2 linked regions of the Homo sapiens genome follow. The protein of the gene in region 2 interacts with the protein of the main gene of each other region in a biochemical or structural test. Each region holds a gene or a part of one and is shown on either strand. Other genes may lie near its edges. The genes, in order: GCK and GCKR.

What was found.
Region 1: the proteins of GCKR (region 2) and GCK form a complex in vitro, tested with the Homo sapiens proteins (2 studies listed by BioGRID and IntAct, with this or other methods).

Annotation. Positions count from the first base shown.
Region 1 is NC_000007.14:44,135,853-44,151,715, forward strand, and holds the end of GCK (hexokinase-4), read right to left. Parts: intron 15,224-15,863; coding exon 15,104-15,223; intron 14,213-15,103; coding exon 14,117-14,212; intron 14,085-14,116; exon of another isoform or gene 14,008-14,084; coding exon 13,908-14,007; exon of another isoform or gene 13,837-13,907; intron 13,440-13,836; exon of another isoform or gene 13,319-13,439; intron 11,982-13,318; coding exon 11,798-11,981; intron 10,782-11,797; exon of another isoform or gene 10,775-10,781; coding exon of another isoform or gene 10,767-10,774; coding exon 10,611-10,766; intron 10,293-10,610; exon of another isoform or gene 10,275-10,292; coding exon of another isoform or gene 10,222-10,274; exon of another isoform or gene 10,057-10,221; intron 9,879-10,056; coding exon 9,645-9,878; intron 9,429-9,644; coding exon 9,284-9,428; 3' UTR 8,423-9,283; downstream 1-8,422. Other genes in the region: MYL7 (myosin regulatory light chain 2, atrial isoform), read right to left, coding at 3,069-3,170, 3,570-3,717, 3,930-4,008, 4,471-4,575, 4,860-5,004, 5,109-5,222, 5,451-5,453. UniProt on the Homo sapiens protein: Catalyzes the phosphorylation of hexose, such as D-glucose, D-fructose and D-mannose, to hexose 6-phosphate (D-glucose 6-phosphate, D-fructose 6-phosphate and D-mannose 6-phosphate, respectively).
Region 2 is NC_000002.12:27,492,572-27,499,838, reverse strand, and holds the start of GCKR (glucokinase regulatory protein), read right to left. Parts: upstream 3,001-7,267; 5' UTR 2,935-3,000; coding exon 2,875-2,934; intron 2,596-2,874; coding exon 2,440-2,595; intron 2,278-2,439; coding exon 2,209-2,277; intron 1,585-2,208; coding exon 1,516-1,584; intron 1,116-1,515; coding exon 1,042-1,115; intron 698-1,041; coding exon 631-697; intron 443-630; coding exon 389-442; intron 1-388. Other genes in the region: FNDC4 (fibronectin type III domain-containing protein 4 precursor), read left to right, coding at 5,160-5,292, 5,373-5,488, 5,705-5,909, 6,361-6,450, 7,049-7,173. UniProt on the Homo sapiens protein: Regulates glucokinase (GCK) by forming an inactive complex with this enzyme. Acts by promoting GCK recruitment to the nucleus, possibly to provide a reserve of GCK that can be quickly released in the cytoplasm after a meal.

The sequences.
Region 1 (15,863 bases), on a different chromosome or scaffold from region 2:
CTCAGAGTCTCCCAGAAACTGCAGTCTTTATTTATTTATTTATTTTTATTCTACTTTTTTTTTTTTGAGATGGAGTCTTGCTCTGTCATCTAGGCTGGAGTGCAGTGGCTTGATCTTGGCTCACTGCAACCTCCCCTTCTGGGTTCAAGAGATTCTCCTGCCTCAGCCTCCCTAGTAGCTGGGACTACAGGCATGCACTACCACACCTGGCTAATTTCTGTATTTTTAGTAGAGACAGGGTTTCACCACGTTAGCCAGGCTTATCTCAAACTCCTGACCTCAGGTGATCTGCCCGCCTCGGCCTCCCAAAGTGCTGGGATTATAGGCGTGAGCCACGGTGTTCGGCCTGGAAACTGCAGTCTTAAATAGACGTACTACACAGTCTAACTCAGTGCTTTCCAACAGGAGTGAAAGCCAGAAATGCAAGCCACTTATGGAATTCTAAATATTCTAGTAGCCACATTTAAAAAGTGAAAAGAAATAGGTGAAATTAATTTTAGTAATAATCTAATATCCAAAACATTATCATTTCAACATGTGATCTATATAAAAGTTATTAATGAGATGTTTGCATTCTTTTTTGTATGAAATCTTCAAAATATTGTGTGCATTTTACACTTTTGGCATATCCCAACTCACACCACATTTCAAGTGGCCAGTGGCTGTCATATTGGTCAGTGTAGGCTGAACTCATGTCCTGGGTCTGTGCCCATCTGTTTCTCTCTATCCTTCTGTCTCTCTCTTTTGTCTCTCTCTCTCTCTCACACACACACACACACAAACACACACACCACATACACACACCATATACATTCTACCCTCAGTTTATTCCAAACAACACTAATACAGGCAGTTTTGGTGTGGGAAGGACTAACCTTATCAGACAACTATATCAGGAGTGTGAAAGGATAATATTTTTAAAGCAAAATATTGACTTGCATACTAAGTGAACAACCGCCAAATATTTTATTTACTTGTGAATTCATGTGGGAATCAATAAGATGTGACAGCCCAAGGAGCTGGGCAGTGCTCATCTTGTGGCTTATTCCTGGGCCTGGTTCAGAGAAGAATTCAAAGAGCCGGTGCATGTGTAGACGGTTAGGAATGCCCAGATGAATTTGCTTAATAGATGCAAAATTGGCTTCTTCCACAGAGAAGGGAAAAATCAGTTGTGCTTCCACTGGACAACATTTATTTGCACGTTAATAGAGAAGAACCATTGCCTTGCTATTAGTTATAATTTAGAGTTGTGGCAGGGCACGGTGGCTCACCCCTGTAATCCCAGCACTTTGGGAGGCAGAGGCAGGTGGATCAACGGAGGTCAGGAGTTCGAGACCAGCCTGGCTAACATGGTGAAACCACGTCTCTATTAAAAATACAAAAATTAGCCAGGCAAGGTGTGCCCATCTGTAATACTAGCTACTTGGGAGGGTGAGGCATGAGAATCACTTGAACCTGGGAGGTGGAGGTTGCAGTGAGCTGAGATCATGCCACTGCACTCCAGCCTGGGTGACAGAGAGAGACTCTGTCTCAAAAATAATAATAATAATTTAGAGAGTTTTGAAACAGCTCAAAGATAACAAAAGGTTCAGACACCCCATCAAATCAGATAACTGGACACCTATGATCTTTTTGGTTCATTTTAGTCTTTCACAATTTACCCCTGTAGAGCTTGGATTATAACATGATCCCTTACTTTATGAAATCAGCTTGTTGAACAAGCAGACTCATGTGGTAGAATCCTAATGGTACTTGATTTTGTTCATCCACTGTTCCAGCATGGTCAGTGGAGTGGGCTGGTGGCCTGCTTTCAGGATGGAAACTCAGGCAGTTCGTGACTTTTGTAATCTCTCTAAGCAACAGAAAATGCCATAATTCCAGAAAGTCTCAAGTTTCAATTTAGTAATTAAATTGCCAGGCGCCAGATAAAATCAAAACTGAACACCTGTCTGGGTGAAAACGCCTTTCCTCTTGGGGCCTTCAGGAAGGGGTGCCCCTCCTTTCTCGCTCACCTCCTTCCCACTGACCCCCAGGTACAGGGATTGCAGCAGGGCTTGTGGGGAGGGAAGGAGGCAAGCTGAGAGCTCTTACTGGGCTGTCCTGTAGGCAGGAGACTTTGTATGCTCTGGATCTGGCTGAGGTTTGAGCTGTCACTGCCTGTCTCTCTGTCTCTGTTTCTCTCTCTGGTGCTTTGGATGTCCCCTGCTGCTCCTCTGGTACTCATGAGGATCACTTTCTCCTCTAGCTCTTGGGTTCTCAGATGAAGGGTGACGGGAGCACTAACTATTCTCTCCTGAGAAGTCGTCTCCCTACACTCCAGCTGTCTGACCCTCTTACCCCTCACGGCGCATGAGGGGCTCAGGAGGCATGATGCCAGGTTCTGGGCATTTCCTCTAGAAATTTGCATGTTACCTGGCCCCTGCTTTGGTGTCCATGTTCCTCATGTCTTAGTGCCTTGCCTGTATTTGCAATGAGAAGCTGGTTGTGTTTCAAATGGGTACCTCTCTGCCTTTCACAAAGGGCCCATGCAGGGAGGCACCCAAGCCAGTGTATTGAGATGGGGTGCGAGCAGTGGGCCAGGGGAGGCTGTGTGGTTGGGTGTGGGGGTCCCAGGGCTGCTGCCCACCCGCTGGGCTGTTGGGCAGAGTTTGCTGAGTGCCCAGCAAGCAGCCTCTTCTCTGCACAGCCCCAAGTAGCTGGGCAGTGCCCACTTTGTGGCTCATTCCTGGGCTTGGTGGAGGTGGTGTAAATCCCACCATCTCCTCTTCTAGAGGGCTGGCCTTGGTAAGATGCTCACACTTTCTGGGCCTCAGTGTCCTCATCTGTAAACTAGGCATGATCATAGTTCACACTTCACTTGGCATCATGGGAGTGAATCAAGGTGAGCTGGCGAGGGGCCAGCTCCCAGGAGGTAGATGGTGGCCATGATCATGGTGATGTGCGCACTGAGACCCTGGGATCCCCCTTGGCTGGTCCCCAACCCATCTGTCACAGACAAGACACCACAGCAATTCCAATTTTGCAACAGAGTTTATTGAGGTGCCCCCCCGTGGGCCTGGCCCTGCCCCTCATTCCTCTTTCTCGTCTCCATGGGTGATGATGTAGCACAGTGACTTGTAGTCGATGTTCCCCGCCAGGTCCATGGGTGTCAGGGCGAACATCTGCTCCACCTGCAGGGGACACTGGTGAGTGGCAGTCCCCTGGCTCCTGGCCCAGCCCGGCAGAGACCTCACCTGAGTCCTGTGGCCTTTCTGTCTGCCCCCTGCATCTGTGCTTTTTGCCTTAGCTTTTCAACCCTAGACCCCAGACTCTGGGTTAATGTTTTTCTCTTGGCTGACTCTGGGCAGAGTGAGGAGTCAGTGCAAATGTGGGCCAAGAGGCAAAGGACGCCCCTCCAGCCACAGGCACAGGCCCACCCCGAGTGTACGAAACCTCTCCCTATCCACTTCCCCCCAGGTCTGTGCACAGTCTCCCTGCCTGGCGCACCCTGCCCTCTTTTCTGACTCCACATCTTTACCCTCTAGGTCTCAACAGAGATGGCACCTCCTCCAGAAGGGCCCTCGGCTCACCCTTCCAGCAACTGCCTCACTGGTACTGGGCTCTGGGTCATGGGTGAAGGCCCAGAGAAGGTGCTGGGGATGAGTATTGAAGGGGCTGGGCAGCCTCACCTCAGCTGGAGAGAACTTGTCTGCCTGGGTCAGGAGAAGCTGCTTGAACCTGGGGGGTGAGGAGGGTCTGAGCAGGAGACTGCGGGGGAGTGACTGCACAGGGAAGGTGGGTACGGAGGCTCCCATGGCGCAGGGAAGGGTTGGCTGCACCCCAAAGAGCAGTGTAAGGCCCCGAAGCACAGGCAGCCCCCCTCACTAGGGGCCTCACCCCGCTCTCTGCTTCCACCACGGTGCTCCTCATCTGGCTGGGCCCATACTTACTCATCCTTGTTCACCACCCCTTTGCCGCTGGGGTCAAACATGCGGAAGGCACTCAGGATGGCTTCCTCGGGGTCTGTCCCTGGAAGGCCGAGGCAGCCAGGTGAGCATCCATGTCTCCAGCATCCCAGGTCCCCCGCAGGAGGAACTGGGCTGCATGAGGAGCCTCCCACATCCCAGAAGAGGTGGGGGTATTCCCTAACATAAAATGTTTCTCGGGGATCAGTGGGGCTGGGAATGGTCATCCTCCTGAGGCGGGCAGCTTGGCTGGGAGACTGGAATTTGGGGGTGGGGGCTGAAGGCACATTTCCTGGCTCCAAGTCAGCACTGGGGTGACCAGTGCACATGGGATTCTGGGGCAGAGGATGTGCTTGGAATGGGTCATGGCCAGGAAGAGTCCAGGTGGGTCCAGGTGGGGTTCAGTTAGGGTTCAGGTGGGGTTCATGTAAGGTTCAGGTGGGGTTCAGGCAGGGTTCAGGTGGGGTTCAGGCAGGGTGCAGGCTCCCTGCCTGGCCAAGGGTGCCCAGCTCTGTCCCAGGCTCACCATTGAGCTTCTCCCCAAAGAGCGTGAGGAAGACGGTGAAGTTGATGGGGCCCTTGCCCTCTTGCAGCATGGCGTCCAGCTCCTCCTCTGGGACACTCACCTTCCCTGGTGGGGGTGGGGCATGAGGTGCACACAGGGACCCTGGGTGTCCCCCAGAAGGCCCAGGCCGCCCTCCCTCCATCCTGGCCACAGGGGCTGGAGGGGCAGAGGCAGCTGTGGGTCGGGAAGGTGAAGTGGAAGCAAGGCGTGACAAGGGGGGAAGGGCAGTGTGAGGAGACGGGGAGGAGGGGAAGCAGGGGAGCAGAGTCCTGTCCCCCCAGCCACTCCCACCCGCCCAGCAGCTCAGAGTAGGGACCCCAGTGCGCAGGGTGGGAGGTGGGTGCACGCACCCAGCTGGGAGTAGGTCTCCCTCAGGTCTGCCTTGCAGATGATGCCATCACGATTCTGGTCGATACAGCTGAAGGCCTGTGGGATGGGGGCCTTCAGGTGGGAGCAGCCCCCAGCTCTAGGGAAGGTGGGAGGTGGGGGAGAGACCTGGGTGGTGTGAGAGGCAAGGTCAGGGTAGAAGGGGGGTATGTATGTGGGGTGGGGTGGGGGGGCCAGGATGGGATCTGAGGCTACTGGGAGTGGGCACTCACTTCTTTGAACTCCTGTATCTGGGCTTGTTCAAACATGGAAAAGACGTTGGAAGAACCACGTTGGGCCTGCTTGGTGGCTGCCACCTTGCCCCGGGTCCCCGCCTTCCTGCTGGCCTGCAACACTGTGAGTAGGGAGGGGTCCTCTCCCCAACTCCTCAGAGTCTCCCCACCCCACCCATCATGCACAGTCCCAGAGCATTCCCAGGAGAGCCAGGGCCAGGATCCTCTTCCTCTCCCTGGGGACCACCCTCAACCCAACACAAGCACAGAAAACTCTGCTCCCCCAGCCCAAAGGCCAGCACCTGGGAGACCGCTAGCCTTTCTTCCCCAGCAGGCACTCACCATTCTCTCTGCAGAGGTGTGGCTGCTGTCGTGGTGGCAGGGCCCAGCCTCCTTTATGTCTCAGCCTTATCACCTGAAGGTCCAAATAAGGAGAGGAACAGAGGATAGGCCCAAACTTGGCAGCCCCCGCCTGGGCTGGGGGAGGCCTAACAGATTCCAGCCACATTCCTGATGACCTTCATGTCCTCAACGTGTAACATCCTGCTGTCTATCCATCCTGGCAGGGCCAGACACAATGTCTGCCTGGAGCAGAGCAGGCTCAAAGCTCTCACCACCCTAGGTCCTGATGAAGGGATCCAGTTACTCCTGTATCTGACCACCCCTCCTTGCCAGTCCAGCCAGAACCCTGGCCAGTGCAAGAAGACAGCTGGTGAGGGCCAGTCCAGGGCCCCCGCCAGGCATGGGAGGGCAGTGTGTAGTTCTGAGGATGGTCTGTGGCCTGAGACCCCCGGGGCTTCCCAGAGGTTTTGGTGACCCTAGGCTCTGACCTTTTGCCCCTCTGACCAAGGGGCAGAAGGCATCCCTGAGCTAGCTGTGACCCCAAGAAGAACACTTTGCTTGGCTTTGGGGCAATTCCAGAGGGTTAAGGAGCTCCATCAGCTGCCCTCCCATGCAGTCTACCTTGCTCCCAGTCTGCCCTGCTGTTTGGAGCCTTGCCTTCCTCAAGCCTCATCTCAACCACACTACTTCAGAATGCTCTCCCTAACATCCTCAGCAGGGAGCTTCTGGGGCACATTTCCCATTTGCCTGGTGGCTGATGTGTTTGTCATTCCTGGCTTCTGTGCCCCTCCTGAGCACCCCACCTGGTTGACATCTGTATCCCCAGAAGGCCTGGTGCACAGTGGGCCGATGGGCAGGCCTGCGTGATGCTGTTCCAGAGAAGCAGTCTCGCCAGCTTCTGGGGCCGAGGGCACAGCAGAGGGGCTGGGGAAACAGGGGACATCCTGGAGGCAGCAGGAGTGGGCCACCCCAGGCTGGGCTCACTGGCTGCTGCCCCTCCACTGGAGCCAGACCTATGTCTGTCAGTAGCTGGCTGGTAGAGTGCAGGAGCTCTTATCTGTCAGACCCAATACCCTTTTTATATAACAAGAGTTTTCTTTTAAATTTCTTAAATTCCCTTTTTTTTTTTTGAGACAGAGTCTCACTCTCGCACAGGCTGGAGTGCAGTGGCGCGATCTCAGCTCACTGCCACCTCTGCCTCCCGGGTTCAAGCCATTCTTGTTCCTCAGCCTCCCAAGCAGCTGGGATTATAGGCATGTGCCACCACACCCAGCTAATTTTTATATATATTTTTTATTTTATTTTATTTTTAGTAAAGACGGGGTTTTATCATGTTGGCCAGCCGGTCTCGAACTCCTGATCTTAGGTGATCTGCCTGCTTCAGCCTCCCAAAGTGCTAGGATTACAGGTGTAAGCCACTGAGCTCTGTCACCCAGGCTGGAGTGCAGTGGCATGAGTAGAGCTCACTGCAGACAACCTCCTGGGCTCAAGTGCTCCTTCCTGCCTCAGCCTCTGGAGTAGTTGGGACTACAGGTGCACACCACCCTGCCCAGTGTTTTTTTTTTCTTTTTTTAATTAATTAATTCATTTTTGAGACAGAGTTTCGCTCTGTTGCCCAGGCTGGAGTGCAGTGGTGCAATCTCTGCTCACTGCAACCTCCGCCTCCTGGGTTCAAGCAATTCTTCTGCCTCAGCCTCCTGAGTAGCTGGGATTATAAGCACCCGCCATCATGCCCGGCTAATTTTTGTATTTTTAGTAGAGTTGGGGTTTCACCATGTTGGCCAGGCTGATCTCGAACTCCTGACCTTTTGATCCACCTGCTTTGGCTTCCCAAAGTGCTGGGATTACAGGCATGAGCCACCGCGCCCAGCAGTGCCCCCCCGCCCCACCCTTTTTTTTTTAAGAGATGGGGTCTTGCTATGTTGCCCCAGGCTGGTCTCAAATTCCTGGCCTCAAGCAATCCTCCACCTCAGCCTCTCAAAGCACTGAGATTATAGGCATGAGCCATCACACTGGCCCATAACAAGTGTTTTATGACACCTCCTTTGTTATCTAGAAAAGAAATTCATTTTATCTATTTCAATTCAGTCATATAACCTACCTACGAATAGAATTTTAATAATTAATACAATGTCCTGAACTGTAATATAAAGGAGAAATAGAAAGCAATTGATATTAAAATGTGTTCCACTCTGTGAATGCTTGAGCATAACAGTAATGATAACAAAATAATCAGATGCTTGCACCAACTTATAAGGAATAATTTAGACTCAAGAGAACTAAGAAGAGCCAAAGCAATTCCACATGAGAAGTAGCAGAAAACAAGAAATCTGAAGGGGGACATGACTTTTCAAAATCACAACTTTGGGTTATGATCTGAAGGAAACAAAACAGTTGTTCCTAATTAGCTGGGTAATATCTCTCATCAAAAAAGGAATGCATGAAAATCACACAAATATGTTTCTATGTCACTGTATTTTATGCTGCAGAAAGATGGCATTATGCCTACGCTTGGCTAACTCTAAATAGGCGTTCCACTGACAGGAGCATCTGGAGGGACCTTAGAAATCCAACATGTATCTGGGCCCCTACTCACTGGCAAACCTAAGTGACTCTGACTGGACAGGACGGTGCTGAGACTGACCTGCAGCAGGACCAGCCTCATTCCCCCACTTCTCCAGAGCAGCACCTGGCCTGGCACTCCCTCTGCACACATTCCATGGGCAGGCAAGCAGGGGCCCGGGCCAGGCAGTGTACTGTCCACTGCTCTGCCATCCCCCATGACACCCCATTCCTGTTCCTACAGCCTGGTCTGTCACTCCTCACACTCCCCTTGGCACAGATGGCTGGAGGAGCTGTCTGGAGGGCATTGCCGAGATACTGAAGTGTCTTCATGCATGTGACGCAGACTCTTTATAGATTGTCCCCACAGTCCTAATGCACAGAAGTCAAAGAACAGTGGACAGGCCATGTTTAAAACTTTTAACATTTTTAATTAAAAAACCCACACAATCTTAGGTTGGGCATGGAGAGGGTGGCATGTCATATGATGGGGTTGTCCCTTGGGGTGTGCTGAATGCTGCTTGGGGTTTCTTCCTGAGCCAGCGCTATGGGAGCTGAAGATGTAGGGCTGGCCCTTCTCCCCTTTGTGGGCCCCTTGGGGCAGAGGCTTGGGGGCTCTGTCTCTTGCACCTGCTGCGAGGGTCCATCCCAGAATCACAAGCCACTCAGTGATGGTATGGGAGAGAAAAGGTCTCTGGGGGTATTCAAAGCTTGGGACACCTCCTCCATGGAGCCCCCTCCCATTGCTCCCTGGGCCTCTTGAGCCTCAGGCAAGAAAATGGCCAGGACTGGGTGATGAGCAGCCCCTGGCTGCCCTTTTGGCCCAGGTCTAGGTCTGGTCAAGCTGTTGGAGCTGCCTCCCCACACAGGATGAGTTCCCAGGGAAGTGAGGCCACAGCAGGATCCAGAGGGCACCCCTTCCCAGAGCCTGGGCCCAGGCGAGGCCAACAGCTCTGACAGTGTGGAAATGCATCAAAGTCCTGAGTGAGCAACTCCCTTCTGGGAAATTGATTCCAGCGAGAAAGGTGGGGGGCTTCCAGAGTCTCTGTTCCTGCTCCTGCCGCACCCCCGTTAGGGCCCTGGGGCTGTCCCACCGAAAAACTGAGGGAAGAGGCCCGCTCTGTTCCCCAGCGGTATGGCAGGCGGCCTGGGTCCTGACAAGGCCAGGCCTCCTGCCCCGCCAGGCTGCGAGCACGTGTGGGGAGCACTTCCCCATGGAGCCTGGGTGCTGTGGGGCTGTGGCATCCTCCCTGCGCTTGCGGCCACTGCTCTCACTGGCCCAGCATACAGGCCTTCTTACAGGCCACCGCCGAGACCAGGGCCGCGCCCCGGCCACTGCCCTCCTCCGACTCGATGAAGGTGATCTCGCAGCTGGGCGTCAGCCTGCGCACGCTGGCATGGAACCGCTCCTTGAAGCTGGGCAGAAGAGAAGCAGGGCTGCCGTCCCTCCTCCCACCTCATCCTCCACATTCATTACCGGGCGCCCTGCACGCAGTCGACCCTTCCCCCAAATCTAGGCCAAGGGGGACGAGAAGAGGACTACGAAATCTTGGAGCTTGGGAACCGCAAGGAACCTTGGAGCGCGCGCTTTTTGGGCCCCACTTTACCAGGGAGAGAGCGGGGCGGGCTCACCTGGGGTGCAGCTTGTACACGGAGCCATCCACGCCCACAGTGATGCGCATTACGTCCTCGCTGCGGCTCTCGCGCATGCGGTTGATGACGCCCGCCAGCCCCGCCGAGCACATGTGCGCAGCGCGCGTAGACACGCTCTCGCAGGCGCGGCGCACGATGTCGCAGTCGGTGGTCGAGGGTCGCAGCCCCAGCGTGCTCAGGATGTTGTAGATCTGCTTGCGGTCGCCCGTGTCGCTGCGGGGCGGGAGGAGGTAGGGCGGTCGCTGAGTGTCGCTCCGACAGTCCATCCCCCTCCAGCGGCGGCCTCTCGTTCTCCAGGGAGGGGCCCCGGCCAGCCGTCCCCCCAGCGGCGGCCTCTTTCCCTCGCTGAGCCGGGACCCCTCTCTGGAGAAATGGGGGCGATCCCGCTCACCTCACCCAGCCAAAGCGTTTCCGCCAGGGACTGGTTAGTACTGCCCCCTCTAACTAAGCCCAGGGTCTCCGTCCTAACGTGGGGGTGTCAACCATGCCGCGCCTTGGGGTTGTGAGTGATGTGAGAGGATGGCCACGGCGGGCAGGGAGCACCGAGGGGACTCACGGATGGGGACCAGTGCCCGGACGCAGGCTCGCTCCCATCCCTGCTCTTGGCATCCCCGTCCGGACCCCGCCTCCTCCCCTTGGGCCCTCCCCCTCCTCCCCGTCTCGGGCCCCGCCCCTCCCTTTGCATCCCCGTCCTGTCCCAGCCTCCTGCCCTTGGACCCGTCCCTGCCCCGCCCTCGCCTCCAGCGCCCGGCCTCGGGCCCCGCCCACTCCCCCGCCCCCTGTGCCCCGCCCCGGGCCCCGCCCACGCCCGGAATCCCGCCCCAGGCCCTAGTTTCCCATCCCTGCGCCCCGGGCCTGGGACTCAGCGTCGCCCTGAGACCAAGTCTGCAGTGCCCGGGCGTCCCCAGCCCCTGCCCTTTGCACCCACCCTCCTCCTCCGCACACCTCTCCACCTGCGACACGAAGCGCGTCTCGAAGGCTCCGCGTGTGCGCAGCTGCTCGGAGGCCTCCCCGTGGAAGAGCAGGTTTTCGTCCACGAGCCTGAGCAGCACAAGCCGCACCAGCTCGCCCATGTACTTGCCACCTATGAGCTTCTCATACCTGGACATAGGGCAGGTCCATTACATCAGCAGGCACGAGGGAGGGCCCCTCATGCAGGTGGAAGCCGGGAGCCGGCCCCACTGCTCCCCACTGAGGTCACGAGGCGGCCACGTGGGGCACTGCGATCCCCACTCCCCCAGCTGGTTCACGTCTTTCCCTCGTTAATGAGCCAGAGCTTTAGAAATGTCAGGGATTAGGAACGTGCACGTTCAAGTCAATCACGGGAGCAACTTTGGCCTGCCCCTGGGCCCACTGCAGTAAAGGGAAAGACAGATAGTTCAAAGACCCCATCCAGTCCCTCCGAAACCTTCCTTGCAGGGGGCCCTGCGCCGAGCACGGGACCTACAGCTTCAGTCTTCCTTTAGCTGCATCCAGAGCTGCTGTTCATTGGCCAGTTATGGTTGGGAAAACTAAGACTTGGAGGGTTAGTGCCCAGTCAGAGGCACGCACCATGTTGCTGGCACTTTCTTGCTTAATCTATGACCTTCCGTATTTAATTTAAATAAATCGAATACTACTGACCTATAATAATAGAGGCCTGCGAGCGGCAGAGAGGACGCTAATAAAGTAATTAGCATAGGCCTGGCACAGTAGGTGGTAAACAAGTGATAGCCATGATTAATGATGAGCTCTCTGTGGGTTGGTTTCCAAGCTGTGACTGTCAACCCGCAGCATTCCACAAAAGACTAATATTCTTTCTGTGAATGTGGCCAAATACATACTTTGGGGAATGTTGGGTTAAACCCAGGAACCTTGCTGGGGGCGTCTCAGAGCCTCCTCTGCATGCACGATCACCTGTCGGAAGGAAAGAGGTCTGGGCTTATCACATCACAACTGGGACTAACCCTTCATCTCTCACAGGGGCAGGTCATGACTGAGCAGAAGGGATGGAGCTTACGAACGGATTGTCAGTTTGCTTTTCCCCAGAGTTGTTTAAAAACAAGCCCATTATCTGCAATGGCCCGGCTCCCATCTGCCGCTGCACCAGAGCGGCCCAGGGCCTGGGTTGTGGGGGAGGGGGGCATCCTTACAGCTGCTGACCGGGGTTTGCAGAGCTCTCGTCCACCAGGCGGTCATACTCCAGCAGGAACTCGTCCAGCTCGCCGGAGTCCCCGAAGGCGCCCCACTCGGTATTGACGCACATGCGGCCCTCGTCCCCCTCCACCAGCTCCACATTCTGCATCTCCTCCATGTAGCAGGCATTGCAGCCCGTGCCTGGGGTGGAGGTCGGGGGGACTGTCAGCGAGAGCTGCACTGCCCCGGAGTAGGGCCTGGTTCCTGCCCACAGGAGTCCCTCTCCCGCTCCCCCATGCCTGTCTCTGCTTTGTCTGGAACAATGGAAAGGCGGCTCTCCCTGGGGCTGGAAGACCTGGGTTGCTTCAGTGGCCAGGGACAGCTTTCAGGGCTGTCCTCTTTCCTAACAGGCAACAGTAACACCTTCCCTGCCTGTTACCTAGGTGGTTGGGAGGACTGAGAGAAACAGTGTGTATCAAAGAAATGGTTGTGGGACGTTATCATTTTATTTTGTCTATGTACGACCCTTGTTTTCTGGCACTGTCCATGCACATGTTTGAGCTTCTTTGTCATGAGACATGTTTGGATGGCAACCCAAAGTGAGTAAGGCATGGTGTGGGCCCTTGGGAGCAGCCCAGAGGCTCCTGTAGACAATTCCGGATATGGAATTTTGTAATTTGCTGGCCCCTGTGCAGAGTGACAACATGGAGTCTTTTGTTCACAAGTTATTAAGAGTTTCAAACTGCTGACAGCAGAGCCTCAAGCTAGCATGACTGTGTGGGCTGCACACCCCCAAAGCTGTCAGGGACAGCAACTCAAATGCTGGTCAGTCGAGCTGCCACATAGGAATCAGGGCTCAGTGATGCTTAGACTTCCAGTTTTTATTTATTTATTTATTTATTTGGAGACAGAGTCTCACTCACTCCATCACCCAGGCTGGAGTGCAGTGGCGTGATCTTGGCTCACTGCAACCTCTGCCTCCAGGGTTTAAGCAATTCTCCTGCCTCAGTCTCCTGAGTACCTGGGATTACAGGCATGCGCCATCACACCCAGCTAATTTTTGTATTTTTAGTAGAGACGAGGTTACACCTTGTTGGCCAGCTAGTCTTCAAATCCTGACCTCAAGTGACCCGCCTGCCTTAGCCTCCCAAAGTGTTGGGATTACTGGCGTGAGCCACCTTGCCTGGCTGCCTTCTAGTTTTTTATGAACAAACAGAAATCCAGACTTTGATGTGAATTCTCCTAATTTTCAGATCTTGGTAATTGTTATAAACATGTTTTTAAACACTGAGCAGAGTCAAGAGTGGATGTGGGGCAGATGTGAGTGGTGGGTCACTCCTTGCCACCTCTGCCCCAGGAGGGGTTATGCCTGGGCCCAGCAGCTGCAGCTTGGCTTGGTGGGAATTCATGTGGAAGTGTCTTGGGGAGCCCCAGGCAGTTCCAGAGGATAGGGTGGAAAGGGCTGGGGGGATCACAGCCAGGGATGGCTGGGGCTCACGTTTAGATGCTGGATTTAAAGACAACGTTCCTTCTGAAAGGTGAAAATGGAAGTAAGAGAAGTATAGAACCACACGGCTGTGCGCACAGCAGATAACTGATCTGATTGGATTGCTCCTCAGTGAAGGCTGGTTATAATGACCTCCGGAACTTCTGAGAAAGGTCCGAGTTGGTGTGGAAGACCCCTCTGCTGGGAGGGGCGGACTGCTGCTCCCTTTCCTGGTACCTGCCTTCACTTTGGGTGGGGGCAGGGGCAGGGGCAGGCCCGTGGAAAGACCATTCGGGTGGAGATGGTACCACTTTTGCTTATCCTCTTCCACTTGGACCAATCTGTCCAGTTGGTCAATTTACCAGATAAGTGTTTTAATTATAATCCTGATGGGTGAGGTGGATATGCAGCTGGCATACCATCTGATGCAGGAATGTGGCATCATGGCGTTGAAATGCTTCCTACTGTACACGGTGCTTCCATCTTGATACCCCAAGACCACCCAGGCTGTAGCACCAGGCTCTGCTCTGACATCACCGGTTGTTAAGTAGTTTGGTCCTCACCCCACAGGGCCCTTGAAGCCTGTTGTACACAGGGAGCCTCAGCAGTCTGGAAGGGGCAGGGGTGCAAGGAGCCCTTACCCACGATCATGCCGACCTCGCACTGATGGTCTTCGTAGTAGCAGGAGATCATCGTGGCCACCGTGTCATTCACCATTGCCACCACATCCATTTCAAAGTCCTGCCAAGAAGCACAGAAGCTGCAGTGCTGGAAGCCAAGGAGAAAGGCAGGCAGTGCTGGGGTGGGTGGCCCAGGGCAGCCCCCCCGGCAGGTACAGGTGCCCCCTCACCCCTCTCCGTTTGATAGCGTCTCGCAGAAGCCCCACGACATTGTTCCCTTCTGCTCCTGAGGCCTTGAAGCCCTTGGTCCAGTTGAGAAGGATGCCCTGTGGGGAGAGATAGGCCTCGTGGCTGCTAACATATACTGGAGGCAGGGTGCTAGGGCCTGTCACTACCTCCTGCACAGGGCCATAAAAGTATGCACCCTACTTTACAGCTGAGGAAACAGGCTCAGAGCAGCCCCATAGCTTTGAGAGGTTTTGGGAACGATTCTCCTTGAAGATATCATATTTCTGCAGGGCTGAGTCCCAGCCAATTTAAGAATGTTGTACTGCACAGCTCTGAGACGTCATCCCAGAGTCAAGGCAGGGCGTGGGGGGAGCAGCTTTGTGTAAAATCAGGATTTCCCTCCTGCAAGGTACCCCGCTGCATGCACAGGTGCCACCTGGCCCTCTCTGTCTCTGTAGGGACTGGGGCTTGGAAAACCACATGAGATGTTGCTTTGGCTGCTGCTTCTGCCGTGAGTGAGGATCTGGCTTTCTCCCTGACCCAAAGGTCTCGTGTTTTATGTGTGTGCATATATAACTGTGTGTGTGTGTGCATGCACAGATGTAACTGGCAGGCCACTTTGCTAGCTTGCAGGAAGGGTAGAATCTCAGTTCCTTCACATTTCTGACTCAGCTAGAGGCAGTGTGACATGACCGTGGCCTGCAGGTGACCCAGAGCCCGGCTGCCTGAGTTTGAGCCCCACCCTACTGCCAGCTGCTCTTTCCACTGGAGTGGGGTGATCATAGCTGGTGCCTCACAAGGCGCACAGCCAGAATTAGCTAATGTGATGCTTCTTTTCCACAGCATTAGAGGTGGCAGGTGACATGGCCACAATTTGAATCCAGATCTCCCTTCTGAGCACATGGTATGGGGGCTACATTTGAAGGCAGAGTTCCTCTGGGGTGCCTGTGCCTCCCCTCATCTGCCTTCTGCCCCTCCACCCGGCCCACCTTATCGATGTCTTCGTGCCTCACAGGAAAGGAGAAGGTGAAGCCCAGGGGCAGCTTCTTGTGTTTCATCTGATGCTTGTCCAGGAAGTCGGAGATGCACTCAGAGATGTAGTCGAAGAGCTGGAAGATGCACGCCATGGTGACCATCTGGCATGGGGGGGTGCGCTGGCCGGCAGCCCTCCCCACGGCCTCAAGCCAAGCTATTCCTCAGGGACACTGCAACACCTGGCCACTGAATGCCAGGCCTGTCCACAGTTTCCCTCTCCTCTTCCGCTGCTGCTTGTTGGGCTCAGGCCCTAAGCCTCCCCCATGCCAGAGACCTGCTGACAGTGGCCCTCGGGACAAGGCAACACAGGGCAGGCTGGTCCCTGGCCCGGCTGTGCTCTGTCAGCCTAGCCCTCCCAGCTGAACCTTGTGAGGTTCAGCCTCAGGCCTGGCCAGCTATTCCTGAGGCTCCACATGGAGGCACATCCTTGATTTCTGTCTCCAGCACCCGGAGTCTCCTTTTCTACTTCTAGGGGCCCTGGCCACCCATCCTTACTGAAGACCAGCCCCGACTCCCCTCACACGGGCCTCTCCATGGAACTGGATACTGCTGAATGCTCTGCTGACTGACCAGGCTCCTCACTGGCTGCTGGGGCCAGGGAGGTCCCCACACCATCCCACTGCCTTGATTCACACCCAGCCCACAGACAGACTAGCAAGCTGCAGGGGTGTGAGGACGGGTAGCCACGGGCAGCCTCCTGCCTCCTGCCTCGGA
Region 2 (7,267 bases):
TTACAGTGAGCCGAAATCATGCCATTGCACTCCAGCCTGGGTGACAGAGCGAGACTCCATCTCAAAAACAAACAAACAACAACAACAAAAAACTTTAAAAACAGGCAGCTGGCTGCATTGGCCAGCCAGTATATTTTGCTTACCCCTGGACTAGTCCACCTATCTTGGTTGTTGATTGATTGATACACAGTTATTCTGAAATAGAATCCCTTCCCCATCTTCCCACATTCACACAACTTGATCCAAGTTAGTGAAACTAAAACCAAAATTCCTTGAGCAAACTTCCTGCCTTCTAGCACCGATCTCATTGATCTATCTTCCATGCTATTCCATTCCCACTCACTTCCTCTCTCTAAAATTGATCCACTCAACCCATCTTTTTACTCACAGAGAGTCCCACAGAAATGCCAATGACAATCACTCTCTTCTTCCCGGCAGCCACCTAGGAGAGGAGGATGGACAAGGTAGTGTAACTGGGAGGATTCCAGGGCACAAATCTACTGTGTGAGGATATCAGGGCCAGGAACAGGGGAGGGAGGAAATAGGCTTTGGCTGAATGCTGGGGCTTTTATGTCCCCATGAGAAGGAACAGATAGAGGTCTCTGGTCAATGTCAGTGAAAAGCACAGACCTTCTTCAGTTCCTCAATCCCGTGCAAGGCACTATCTTCTGTCCCCTCCCTAGAGGCCACCACAGACCTAAGAGGACAGACTCAAGGTCAGTGGCAGTGGCTGGAAAGCAGAAGCCTATGGCGTATTAGGGCAGGCTACATTAAGAGATGCGCATAAAGGGAAAACTATCATTGAATGAGCACCCACAGTTTGTTGGTGCATGATAGACACTCCATAGAGTTGAAAAACTCAAATACCTACAACAGCCAGTCAGGCGACATAAGTATGTGAAGTGGGCCAAGTGTGAGGGAATAAGGAATGGTGAGGACTAAGACAAGCCAGACACAATCTCTGTCTAAAGGTATTCCAACTCAATTTCTAAGAAATACTATTTAGGTCAAACAAAATATTCATAGGCTAACTTGGCTTACCTGTCACCACCTGCAATGAGGTAGGTGTAAAGAGGTTTCTGTCCCAGACCTTTCATCAGCTGATTAAAGGACACCTGTCAAGCAGGGAGAGGATGTAAAGAGGTAATGACAGAGAAGAAACAATTATCTTGGATTTTCAACTCCTAGAGGGCAGAGACTATATAATGATTCTCTTAGACCAGTGCTTAACCCAGTCCTACATGGAATCTCGCACTTAAAGCTGCTACTTGGAGATGATTAGTCGGTGGTGCATGGGATGTAGAGACATTGGCAACATACTGGCGGGACTCAGATGGGCTCAGAAGAAATGGGACTTCATGGTGACATCTAGCTTTTGGAAGAGAGAAAGAGCCAGGCTTGGAGTCCAGGTCTAGTGAGGGGGCCACCTGGGAGCTTAGTTATGATGATCTTTATGGTCCTGAGGGTCACCTCCAGAAGTGGAGGGGGAAGAAAACTGGAGACCAGGGTGCTCACCGACATGAGGAATGCCATCCGGCCAGAGGTGCCCCCTCCACTCAGCACAACCAGCCCCCCATCTGGCTCCTGAAGAAGGAAAGAGGCATATATTACCAGGGCCTGGCTCAGGTTGGGAGAAGAATATTCTTTTCTTTGTCAGTAATGCAAGAGGAATTGGAAAGACTCCTTATCCCTCCTCTCATCACAAAATTGAACAAATACATGCAATGTAGTGTAGCAAAAAGAACATTGGATTAGAGAAACCAGTTTGACTCCCATGTCTTGCTCCACTACTTGTTCAAATCCTTACTTCTCCCAGAAAGAACTGAAAGCAGCTTTGTCATCTAAATAAAAGTAAATAATAAAAGCAGCATTATCCAGCAATTATTAGCTCAGTGTATTTGAGCAAGCTACAGTGATTATCCTTTCTAAATCTTTGTTTTTTCATCTGAGGAAAACAAACAGAAGTCATATCAACTTCACAGGCTTTTGTGAGGGTAATAGGTGTGAAAGTAGATTGTCAATTATAAAGTATTAAGCAGAGAAGTTATCATTATTATTTATTAATAAGATGAAAATAAGGATCCAAAAGGGAGGATCTCCAAAAGGGAGAAAGGAGAATGAGATCTATCAAAGTGAGAAATAGAGACAGTAAAAAGAGAAAGAGGGAAACAGAAAAGTTTAGGCAGGGAACAGAAGGAAGGTTAGTACCTTCAGCACTTCCTGAACTTTCCCAGCCACCTGTACCATGGTGGTCAGAATGGATTCGCTGTAGAGTCTCTGTAGGGAATATGCAGGAATGAGAAGCCAAGAAAAGGAGGACGATGAATGGGGGAGGGGGTCTCAGGGTTTCCGATATTAGGAGCCATGGTGAGGGAGAGCAGAGGTGGGGTTGGGGTTGGCATGTTTATTTCCAGGGTCCAGGTCTTGGGTCTTGGTTACCTGGTATGTGGACAGGGCTTGCCCCTCCTCCTGGAAGATCTCAGCATCACATTGCCCTAGCAGTCGAACAATGTTCTCAGCATCTGCTTTGTCTAGATCCTGGGTCAGTGGGTTTGACTTCTCCGTGATTGGCACAGCTGCCTCGTACCCAGACAACTAGAAGGAAGAGGGGACAAGGATGGAGCAGGAAGCCAAAGCCTCATTCATGCCTGCTGAGCTGGAGGTGGGAGTGGCAGCAGGCACAGAGTTTGGACTTACACACACGCACACACATACCACACCAGAAACTCAGCCTGCACTTGGTGCTCTGGGCATATTAGGGAAAGAACATCAGGAAGGAAGAAGAGGTGAGCAGAAACCAGCGGGGAGGGAAGACTGGATGAAAAATAATTCTAGGAATCAGCACAGAAAGCCAACATGAAGAAGGGGTCTCACCTCCCACTTGCCAGGCTCCGGGGTCTCAATGACATGTTGAAACCGTTTTGTGCCTGGCATGGTCCCACGCTGTGGATACACTGTTCCTCCTGCCTCTTCAGCCACACAAACCCCTCTGGTCACAATGACTCTGCTTCCAGTTGGCAGGGCCTTATCTGAGCCCCAGTGATGATTAACCCAAGCACCCTGGGCTCTCAGAGCACCACCCTTTCCTGGTCACTAGGCCCCCAGCCCTCTGGTAACCCCAGGGAAACTCCTGGGCTTCCTCTTTGCAAGCACCCTGACTCGCCAGCCTCTGCTTTGGCCCCTGAAGAGGAAGACCTGAGGCTCGGGACTCTTGCCCTACCGGGACAATGCCCTCTTCTACAGAGGACCTGGAGCCTGGGAGTGCAGGACAACACCCACGGCAGTGAGAATCCCTGGGCAAGTGTCCTCCGAGGCCAGAGATCAGGGTCACCAAGTCAGCACAAGTCAGAGGACCTGGCCCATGGCTTGATCACATGCTCAGCACACACAGTCAGTCCCACTGGTCCCATTTTATCCTCTCCTCTCAGAAAGGAAGGCAGTAGAAGCTTCTGAGCCCCAAGTGTGCACACACTGTACTGGATATTACAGCGGGAAAAATCCCACAGAAACAGAAATACTGCATTGAGAATTAGAAACCAAAGAATCTGCCCTAAATACAATGTTAGCCAACATTTATTTACACTGAACAACACACTTTTCACAGACAGTATCTCATTGGATACACCAACACTAAGATGTTGGTCAATATTGACACCCTCATTTTTCAGATGATGAAACAGGCTCAGAGTAGTTTAGTTGGTTGCTTAAGATCACACAGCTGGACAAATTGGGACTCACACCCAGGTTCTCAATTCAGATTTCAAGCTCAACCAAAGCATGATATAATGTAAGGGCTTACATGTTATTGAACAAAGAAGTAACTAACAGATTGGTGCAAATTAATCTCCATCATCCAGTCACATAGTGTTGTGAGATTTATAAAGATCTTTCCCGTCTCATTTGAGCCTCACAACAACCCTGTGAGATTTCACACGCTTTGCTTTACAGGTGGGAAACCTGAAGCACAGATAAACCAGTTTCTCCAAAACCACACCGTAAGTGGTAGAGCTTTAGAAAAACAAAAAAAGAAAAGAAAGGAATAATAATTTTTTTAAAAAAGCCATAGGTCTTTGCGCTTTGATTCTCCCGAGAAGCCCAACACTCTTAACAATCACTGTATCTCCAGGTTTTAATATAATGCCAGACACATAGGAGATGCTCAATAAATATTTGGTGAATAAATGAAAGAATGAATGAGAAAGCGAACGGAATTAAATGAGATTATGAATGGAAAAGAGACTTAAAAGCTGACGCAGTCTACAAGTAAGGGATTGTTAAAGCAATTATTATCTCCCTCACTCTCTCCCCTCTCCTGTTAGCCCCTCGGGCACTGGAGGTGGAATTCCTCTTCCCAACTTGGCTCTTCCACGCGGGGAGGAAGGGGATCTCCCAGGTGCCGGAGACCCTAGCACCCGCGTCTCACCCCCCACGCCCCCGCCGACTCGTCCGCTTCAGCTGGGAGAGAGAAGGGATAAGGGATGGGGGCTCCGGAGGCGCCATTGGGAGGGTCGTGGGAGGAGCCCCGAGAGGACGGGAGTGAGGGGGCGGGAGGGGAATGACGGCGGCGAGAACCCCGGCTGGGCGGGGCGGGCCCGCGCGTCCCGGCCGGGCTGCGGCGGAGCGAGCGGGGCCAGCGCTGCAGAAGGCGGCGGCTGGCTCTCCGGGACGGTCACATCCCGCTGCAGGGGCGGGCGGAGGCCGCCGCACTGCCTCCCGCACCGGGGACCCAGGCCAGCGTCCGGGCAACGCCCCCTGCTCCCGGACAGACTCCGTGGCCCGCTCGAGCCCTGGGGGCTCCGCAGACCCGCGCCCGCTCCGCCCGCAGCTCGGCCCCGCGCTGCCCGCGTCGCCGGGCCCGCGCCGGGATGGGGTAGGGGCAGCGCCACCGAGTCGGGCGATGGGCCGCCCTCTGGGCACCGAGCAGCCCCCCGAGGCCTGACCAACCGCGAGGACCGGCGGAGGTGGGTGTGGGCAGGGCGGACCGCACTCTGGGGCCGCCCGGGCAATGCGGGGGCGGGAGGGCGTAGAGAAAATAGGGCTGTTGTGAGCTGTGGGGAGCCCAGGAGAGCTGCTGCCCCCCGACCTCCGTGCGTTCTGGGCAGTCCTTGACCCCCCACAACTCCTGCCATCTCCAGGAGCCCCGCCTGGATGTCAAGCGGATGCCAAGCGGATGCCACAGTTCCCCCCCCAGCGGACTCCGTGGGGACATGGCTTCGCTGGTGCCCCTTTCCCCATATCTAAGCCCCACGGTCCTCCTGCTGGTCAGCTGTGACCTGGGCTTCGTGCGAGCAGGTAAGTAAAGGGGAACGGGGCTGAGGGTCAACCACAGCTAGTCAATGGGTGAAACCTGTTAAACACCCTGGCTCCCGCAGACCGGCCTCCCTCTCCTGTGAATGTGACGGTCACTCACCTCAGAGCCAACTCGGCCACTGTGTCCTGGGACGTCCCAGAAGGCAACATCGTCATTGGCTACTCCATTTCCCAGCAAGTATGAATCACCCTTCTGCTCCCCCAACCTGTGTCCTTGGATTTCGGCACATTTCTTCACTTAAGTGGGGGGGATCTGGAAGCTGGCGTATCCTGGCTCAGGCTGCCCTTTTCACGCTACTCCCCCGGAGTGCTTGGATGTTGAAGAGTCTCTGGTTGAGCCTTGTGGCCTGGCACTGGGGTGAGGCTGTCCTCCTCTCCCCTCATCTCCCTGCAGCGGCAGAATGGCCCCGGGCAGCGTGTGATTCGGGAGGTGAACACCACCACCCGGGCCTGTGCCCTCTGGGGCCTGGCTGAAGACAGTGACTACACAGTGCAGGTCAGGAGCATCGGCCTTCGGGGAGAGAGTCCCCCAGGGCCCCGGGTGCACTTCCGAACTCTCAAGGGTTCTGACCGGCTACCTTCAAACAGTTCAAGCCCAGGTGAGGATCTGTGCTATTGGATTCTCTGGCTGCTTACCTGGCTTGCAGCCTCTTACTTACTTCCCCAAGACAAGCAACAGACTAGCTGAGTTGAATAGGATGATTTAATTCATTGTACTGCCAGGAAAGGAAAGAAAAGCAGGTGGGAAGGGGATTGGGTATAGACAGGCTGGTATTGAGTTGTTTGGGGGAAGGCCTTTTAAGCTTCCTGTTACCCAACTTCACATCAGCTGCAGCCTGCATGAGTGAGTAATTAACCTGCAGCCATCCCGCTTTTTGGTCGCTAACCACCTGTCCACCAACGGCTTCCTCCCAGGGAGGGGCTACCCTACACTCCAAGGGCAACATTATGATGGGTCCACCCTTTCTAATCCCCAGCATCTCCATCCTGCATGTCTGCAGTATGGACCCCAGTAACCTGGAGTCTGCCTTCTGCCTTCTCCCTTCTCAGGTGACATCACAGTGGAAGGTCTGGATGGAGAGCGGCCACTGCAGACTGGGGAAGTGGTCATCATTGTGGTGGTGTTGCTCATGTGGGCTGGTGAGTAAGCAGCTAGACAGGGGACCAGGGACTCAGTAAAGGTGTGAGGTGGCAAAGGTTGTCAGGAGAAAAAGAAGTGAGAGATACAGTGGCTCACGCCTGTAATCCCAGCACTTTGGGAGGCCAAGGCAGGCAGATCACCTGAGGTCAGGAGTTTGAGACCAGCCTGGCCAACATGGTGAAACCCGTCTCTACTAAAAATACAAAAATTAGCAGAGTGTGGTGGAGGGCGCCTGTAACCCCAGCTACTCAGGAGGCTGAGGCAGAAGAATTGCTTGAACTCAGGAGGTGGAAGTTGCAGTGAGCGAGCCGAGATCATGCCACTGCACTCCAGCCTGGGCAACAGAACGAGACTCTGTCTCAAAAAAAAAAAAAAAAAAAAAGTAAGAGAAATAGAGTGGAGTGGGGAGATACTTAGTTCAGGAGGGATGATTTGAACTTTGAAGAGAGGGAGAGGAGGCTGTTGAGAGCCCAGAGAGGAGGACTGCATGGGCACCAGGAATTCAGGATGTTCTTCATGGATTTTCTAGAAGCTACGTAGGTATCTCCCTATGAGGGGGGAAGTGGAGATGAAGGCTCAGACTGTATTGTGTTTCAGCTGTAATTGGGCTGTTCTGCCGTCAGTATGACATCATCAAGGACAATGACTCCAACAACAATCCCAAGGAGAAGGGAAAGGGGCCGGAACAGAGTCCTCAGGGAAGGCCAGTGGGGACAAGACAGGTGATGTGGGGGCCAGTGAGGGCGGAAAGGGTGATTCTGCCCCTGAGGGGCAGCCAGGGAAAGGAAGAAGGTCAAAGAGGGGCAGAAAAAGATG